Homo sapiens: one gene and its partner. The protein of the gene in region 2 interacts with the protein of the main gene of each other region in a pairwise test. Each region holds a gene or a part of one and is shown on either strand. Other genes may lie near its edges. The genes, in order: GLP1R and CELA3B.

The links.
Region 1: the proteins of CELA3B (region 2) and GLP1R interact in a protein complementation assay, tested with the Homo sapiens proteins (one study listed by BioGRID).

What each region holds. Positions count from the first base shown.
Region 1 is NC_000006.12:39,055,250-39,059,069, reverse strand, and holds part of GLP1R (glucagon-like peptide 1 receptor precursor), read right to left. Parts: intron 2,674-3,820; coding exon 2,577-2,673; intron 1,599-2,576; coding exon 1,491-1,598; intron 1-1,490.
Region 2 is NC_000001.11:21,986,779-21,989,931, reverse strand, and holds the end of CELA3B (chymotrypsin-like elastase family member 3B preproprotein), read right to left. Parts: intron 671-3,153; coding exon 653-670; 3' UTR 578-652; downstream 1-577. UniProt on the Homo sapiens protein: Efficient protease with alanine specificity but only little elastolytic activity.

The DNA of each region.
Region 1 (3,820 bases), on a different chromosome or scaffold from region 2:
ACAGTACTTTTAGGAGACCAGCCTGGGCCTCATCTGACTTCAGTCCCACGTGCCAAGGTGAAGCTTACATTGGGCCCCACCAGGCCACCTCCTCCAGGAAGACACCTGGCTTCCCCAGAGCATAACCTCATGCCCGCACTTGTTTCTGGGCCAGTTGCTGCTTGGGCTCCAGCCCCTTCAAGGTGTGATGATAGGAGCACGAATTGGATTCAAATCCTGGCTCTGCCATTGACCACATCATTTGGAACAAGTGACTTAAACTTTTTGTGCTTCAGTTTCCTCATCTGTACAGCAGGTATAACCACAGGGTAGTTATAAAGCCCTGCTTTTAGGGCAGGACTTGGCACACAGTAGGTACTCAATAAATGCTGGCTATGATGACGATGATGATGGTGATGGTGATGATGATGATGATGATGATGATGATAGGGAAATATCTTTTCTCCCCTTATGGAGACTGGGAGCTCCTTGCCATGAGGGTGCTTGTCTCCTGTTATCCTCCACGGTGCCTGGGTGAAACTGGGCTCAGCAAGGGAGGCTGGGATAGATAGCGGGGCACATTAACTAACCCTCCAGTCAGGGATCCTCTTGCAGCCTCTGCAAATCTCTGTACCCCCAATGAAATGACCTTCCCACCTACCCAGTCACATCTTCCCCAGTACAAGGTCCCCCTTGCAGGCAGGAGTGAGCTGAGGAGGGCTGAGTCTGGTGGGGTTCGTCACCCCACCAATGCCCTGATCACTTCTCCCAGTGAACCTCTAAAGAGTGAGGAAGTAGCTAAATGTCACTGCCAGGTATGGGCCACCTGCATACACATATCATACATACATGTATACACACAGCAGACACCCTGGGTAGCTTCCCTCCCCGCAAGAGTCTGTCCCCACCCAGCTCTTTTCCTGACTACTGAATTGGAAGGGGTCGCATTTCTCTTCAGACACTTACTTTCCCTTCCCCACACACTGGCCAGCACTGGCCTCACGCCCAGACCCAGGTGGTACCTCAGGCCATCATGAAACTTATCACTACTGACTGCTCCCCTCACCCCAGGAAAGGCAGGCGGACCACTCACTAGGAGGCCTAAAGACATTCTGGGTGGGGAGGGCTGTGTCTCAGAGGAAAGGAAGCAGCGCCTTGACCTCAGCCTCCTCGATACAGGGGACGGTGGGGGAGGGAGCTCACCACTGCTGACCCAGGGCAGGTACCAGGTCAGGGAGGGGGCTCACCACTGCTGACCCACGGCAGGTACCAGGTTAGGGAGGGGGCTCACCACTGCTGACCCACGGCAGGTACCAGGTTAGGGAGGGGGCTCACCACTGCTGGCCCAGGGCAGGTACCAGGTCAGGGAGGGGGCTCACCACTGCTGGCCCAGGGCAGGTATCAGGTCGGGGAGGGGGCTCACCACTGCTGGCCCAGGGCAGATACCAGGTCGGGGAGGGGGTTCACCACTGCTGGCCCAGGGCAGGTACCAGGTCGGGGAGGGGGCTCACCACTGCTGGCCCAGGGCAGGTACCAGGGGCAGCTGACATTCACGAACGAGCCTGGCTCCCCATCTGGCCAGCAGGCGTATTCATCGAAGGTCCGGTTGCAGAACAAGTCTGGGAGCAGAAAGAACAGTCTCTGAGTCCCTGCTTGTGACTGGCCATGGCCCTTTCCCTCCCTTCCCCAAGACCCCTCCCCTCCTCGGAGGCTGCATGCCACTAACCTCTGCTGAATGCTTACTGTATGCCAAGCACTTTCCCCACCCAGCAAGAGCCAAGCAGGGGCACTTGCCACTTATCAGTGGCAGGACCTTGAGCAAGTAACTTAATGTCTGTTTCCTGATCTGTAAAACAGGAGTATTTCCAGCCCCATAGGGTTTTGTGGGATCAAGACTATATGCTACATAGATAATGGAACATAGTACGTGCTCAATGAAAAATCCCTATGGGCCTATTCTTAAATTGCACTTCACAGATTAGAGGGAAATGTTAGCTTACCTTCCTTCTGATCTCACTTAAGATAACCTTCTTTAGGTCACGTGTTATAATTACAGTCAGGATTTCAACCTAGGCCCAGCGGGCTCCAATCCCGTGCTCTTTAAACCACCTTGTGAACTCCCTGAAACATTTATTCCTATAAATATGTTTGTGGAGCCCTCAGTCCATGCACAGGCTGGGAGGTGCTGAGGACAAAAATGGAAAGGCCGGGTGCCTGCTCTGAGAGGCTCTAGCTGGGGGGCTGGCCGGCGGTGCAGGGAAGGACACACAGATAAGACAGCTAAGACAGAAATAAGACAGCAACCCCAAAGCAGACTACAGCAAACGAGTAAGGGCCAAATGATGGCAGAAGTCCTGGGGAAGATTTTCTGGAGGAGGCAGTGCTTCCGCGGACTTTGAAGAAAAGGAAGATTTTGGTCGGCAGAAAGGAAGGTATCCAGGTGAAGGAGTAGCTTGGACAATGAGATGAAGGCAGAGGGCAGGGGTGGCATCCTATAGAGGCAAATGGCTCCCAGCCATGGACATTGAGTTCATCAAAGTCCTCCAGAAGTTGGTTGGGTGGGGAGCACTAAAGGTGGGGAGCCTACATGGACTCACCTGTGGCAGGAGGTGGATCCTCAGTCAGGGAGCGCTGGCACTGGCGTCGGTATTCTCGCCATTTCTGCACCGTCTCCCAGAGGGACACAGTGGCACCCTGGGGGGAGGGCATATATGGGAGGCCTGTGGGTTCAGCCAGCCCCTCTCCTGCCCCCTCACCCCCTAACACACTTGGTTTCTCAATCTCCATGAAACCTCAAAGCCCCAAATTCTGCCAGGCATCAGCCACCTCTGAAAGAGAGTGAGAATAAGTCACTGCCACCCAGGGGCCCCAGGTGGATGGTTTGACATCTTCATTCCTCCCAGGGTGCATAGCTTGATGTGTCACGAGCACCCAGCAAATGTCTGCTAAATTGATGCTTTTGGGGAGGTGGGTGGGTGAAGGAGGAAAGGAGCGTGTGTGTCTCATTTGTGATCTCTGATCTCACTTAGGAGAGAGACTTTCTGAGGGCCCAGGACTCTAAGCTCCTTCTGGCGCCTAGTCAGCCTGCCTGAGGGCTTCTTGCACTTTCAACCATTCTAGAAGAAGACACACAGGCCAGAGTGGGAGAGGAACTGAATCAAGGGTGCACAGCCCCCCCAGGAAGCAGAGTTAAGGCTAGAATCTGGAGTCCTTCAGATCAGTGACCATGGTAGAATATCGCAAGGTGTGCGGGGGCCGGGGAGAGTAGTGGCGTTCAGGGCTACAAAGAGCTGGGATGTCTGCCATTAGCATTCCTCCTCCAAAACGCACTCACTTACAGATGCACTCAACACAGCACCCCCCACCCCCTCCCCGTGCTCCCCTCTGACACAGCAACCAAATCTAATATTCAACCCAGCTTCTATCCACCCAAAGGAAGAGTCCTGAGGACATGAGGTGAAGGGGTCAGGGAGGTTCCAGAACACTGAAGTCACACGTGCAATGGGAGGGATCCCTCTCACCTGTGAGTAGGGAGAGCTGAGCCTCCACTTCCAGTGAGGTCACCGAAATGGCTTTTCAGCACACAGACCCAAACAGACCCATCCCACTGAGAATCCACCATTCCTTCTGAGTGTTTTTGTGCACTTCCTTCAGCTATGTCTTGGGGTTGTCGTTCTTTTTAGTTTTTTCCTGAACAGCCTTAAAAATTATAAATATTCGTCCTTCAGAGGCTGCAGATGCTGAAATGACCCAAGAGCCCCATGTATAAAATGTAGGACCCATACATAATTTAAAACAACATTTTGCTTTTTGAAATCACAAAAATGTCCACGTGTGCTGA
Region 2 (3,153 bases):
TAAACTACCCAGTCTCGGGCAGTTCTTTATAGCAGTATGAACACAGACTAAGAGAGCTATCTTTAAATAATGAGTCACTTCAGGGCAGGAACCATGTCTCCTTACCCCTCTGAGCCCTCCTTTAAAACAAGGAATAAGTGTTTGTTGAATGAATGAATAACCAAAGCCCCCAGCCCATCAGTGGAAGCAGATCACACATTGTCCTTCCCACTCTACCATGAGCCTGCTGAGGGGCTGGCAGGGTCTGTTTATCTGCAGATTTTTACCATGTTTATATGCCTGCATTGAAAAGCTACTGACTTATGTGCGACTATATACTAAGGCGACCAACTTGTCCCATTTTTCCTGGTACCTTCCCAGTTTTAGCATTAAATGTCCAGTGTCTTCACTCCTGAAGTTCCAGGCAAACCAGGATGGTCAGGTCACCGCACAGCAACTCCCTTCTCTCCCAGCATCATTTTTCCCTCATCTTCGTATGAAAGGGTTGGACCTGGTCCTGTCTCTGCATATGAGATCTAAGATTTTAGGAACAGGCCAGAGGGGAAGAGGTGAGTCAACAAAGAAAGAAAGATTCAACTTGGAATTTTCTGAGAGATCTTTATTCTTTATTCAGGATGTGGGATCGATCAGCACTGCCAGCTGGGCCTTGGTTCTAGTGGCTTGCTATGGTCTGGAAAAGTTGGGGGGGCAGACAGAATAGTCAATTTAGGAGCACAGGTTCTGGAGTCAGATGAAACTGGGTTCAACTTCCAGCCCTGCTGTGTGACCCTGGGAGAGGAATTGACCTCTCTGAGCCTCAGTTTCCTCCTCTATGTAGTAGGGATAATGATAGAACTTACCTCATGGGGGGGTTCTTGATTAAATTGTTAACTAAGGTTCTCTCTACAATGGCCAGCATGAATTTAGATGGGATGTGTGCATAGATATATATACATATATATGTGTGTGTGTGTATATATATACGTCTGTGTGTGTATATATATGTATGTATGTATGTATGTATATAAACAAAATATATATTTTTGGAGTTTTTTTTCTTTTTGAGACAGAGTCTCACTCTGTTGCCCAGGCTGGAGTGCAGTGGCACAATCTCAGCTCACCGCAACCTCCACCTCTTGGGTTCATGCCATTCTCCTGCCTCAGCCTCCCAAGTAGCTGGGACTACAGGCGTACGCCACCATGCCTGGCTAATTTTTGTATTTTTAGTAGAGACAGGGTTTCACCTTGTTAGCCAGGATGGTCTCAATCTCCTGACCTTGTGATCTGCCCACCTCAGCCTCCCAAAGTGGTGGGATTACAGGCATGAGCCACCATGCCCGGCTTTTTTTTTTTTTTTTTTTTAAGATGGAGTCTTGCTCTGTCGCCCAGGCTGGAGGGCAGTGGTGCAATCTTGGCTCACTGCAACTTCTGCCTCCCGAGTTCAAGCAATTCTTCTACCTCAGCCTCCCAAGTAGCTGAGATTACAGCCATGCAGCACCACGCCCAGCCAATTTTTTTATATTTTTGTAGAGACAGGATTTCACCATATTGGCCAGGCTGGTCTCGAACTCCTGACCTTATGATCTGCCTGCCTCGGCCTACCAAATTGCTGGGATTACAGGCATGAGCCACCGTGCCTGGCCTTATATATATATTTTTTTAACATGGGTCAGGGAACCAAGGGATTAAATGGTCTATAAATCATCACTGTTTTTTTGTTTGTTTGTTTGTTTTTGTTTTTGAGATGGAGTCTTGCTCTGTCACCCAGGCTGGAGTGCAGTGGCGTAATCTCGGCGCACTGCAACCTCCGCCTCCCAGATTCAAGCAGTTCTCCTGCCTCAGCCTCCTGAGTAGCTGGGACCACAGGCATGCACCAATACGCCCGGCTAATTTTTTGTATTCTTAGTAGAGATGGGGTTTCACCATGTCGGCCAGGCTGGTCTTGAACTCCTGACCTCAGGTGATCCATACGCCTCGGCCTCCCAGAGTGCTGGGATTACATGCATGAACCACTGTACTTGGCCAGAAATGTTTTTTTAATGGAAGCCTTCATGACTTTGCATGTCATCCTTGCGCAGGGGCCGTGCTAATCTCTATATCATTCCAATTTTAGTACATGTGCTGCCAAAGCAAGCACTACTGTTTTATTTTATTTAGTTTATTTTCATTTTTTTAAGAGAGAGGCTCTTGCTGTGTTGCCCAGGCTGGAGTACAGTGGCTATTCACAGGTGTGATCCTACTACTTTTCAGCATGTGAGTTTTGACCTGCTCTGTTTCTGACCTGGGACAGTTCACCCCTCCTTAGGCCACCTGGTGGTCCCCACTCCCAGGAGGTCACCACATGGATGCCAAACTTGGTGCAGAACCAGATGGGTATAGCGCACTATGGCCCAGAACTCCAGGGCTCAACCGATCCTCCTGCCTCAGCCTCCCAAGTAGCTGGGACTACAGGTGGGCATCACTGCACCCAGCTAGCTATTACTCTTTTTTTTTTTTTTTTTGAGACGGAGTCTCGCTCTGTCACCTAGGCTGCAGTGCAGTGGTATGATCTCGACTAACTGCAACCTCCGTCTCCCAGGTTCAAGCAGTTCTCTGCCTCAGCCTCCCGAGCAGCTGGGATTACAGGCACCCACCACCATGCCCGGCTAATTTTTGTATTTTTAGTAGAGACAGGGTTTCACCATCTTGGCCAGGCTGGTCTTGAACTCCTGACCTTGTGATCCACCTGCCTCTGCTTCCCAAAGTGCTGGGATTACTGGCATGACTACTCCATGCCCAGCTATTACTCTTTTTTTTTTTCTTTTTTTTTTTTGTTTAGCTATTACTGTTATCAGGAGTGTTATTAGTCCTCTCTGATCACCCATCCCCAGATGAAGTCTGGGGCCTGGACTCCCCTCTCTCGGCTCTCATCAGACTGCATCGTTCTCATTCATGTAATCACCTGTCCCCCACCAGGCAGCCTCTTGTCTGGCATGTCTCTCTATCCTCCCTGACAAGAGAGGACAAGACCAGAGGAGATACTTTATAAATACTTGTTGAAATAAGGAAGTTCAGCTGTAGTTCCAAGCACCACCCAGAAGCCATCAAGTTCCTGGGGTCACACTGTATCAGAAAACATCCCCAAGCCTTTCTGGAATGTCCCCAAGGGCCCTTCCCCACTGAGCTTCTAGGATC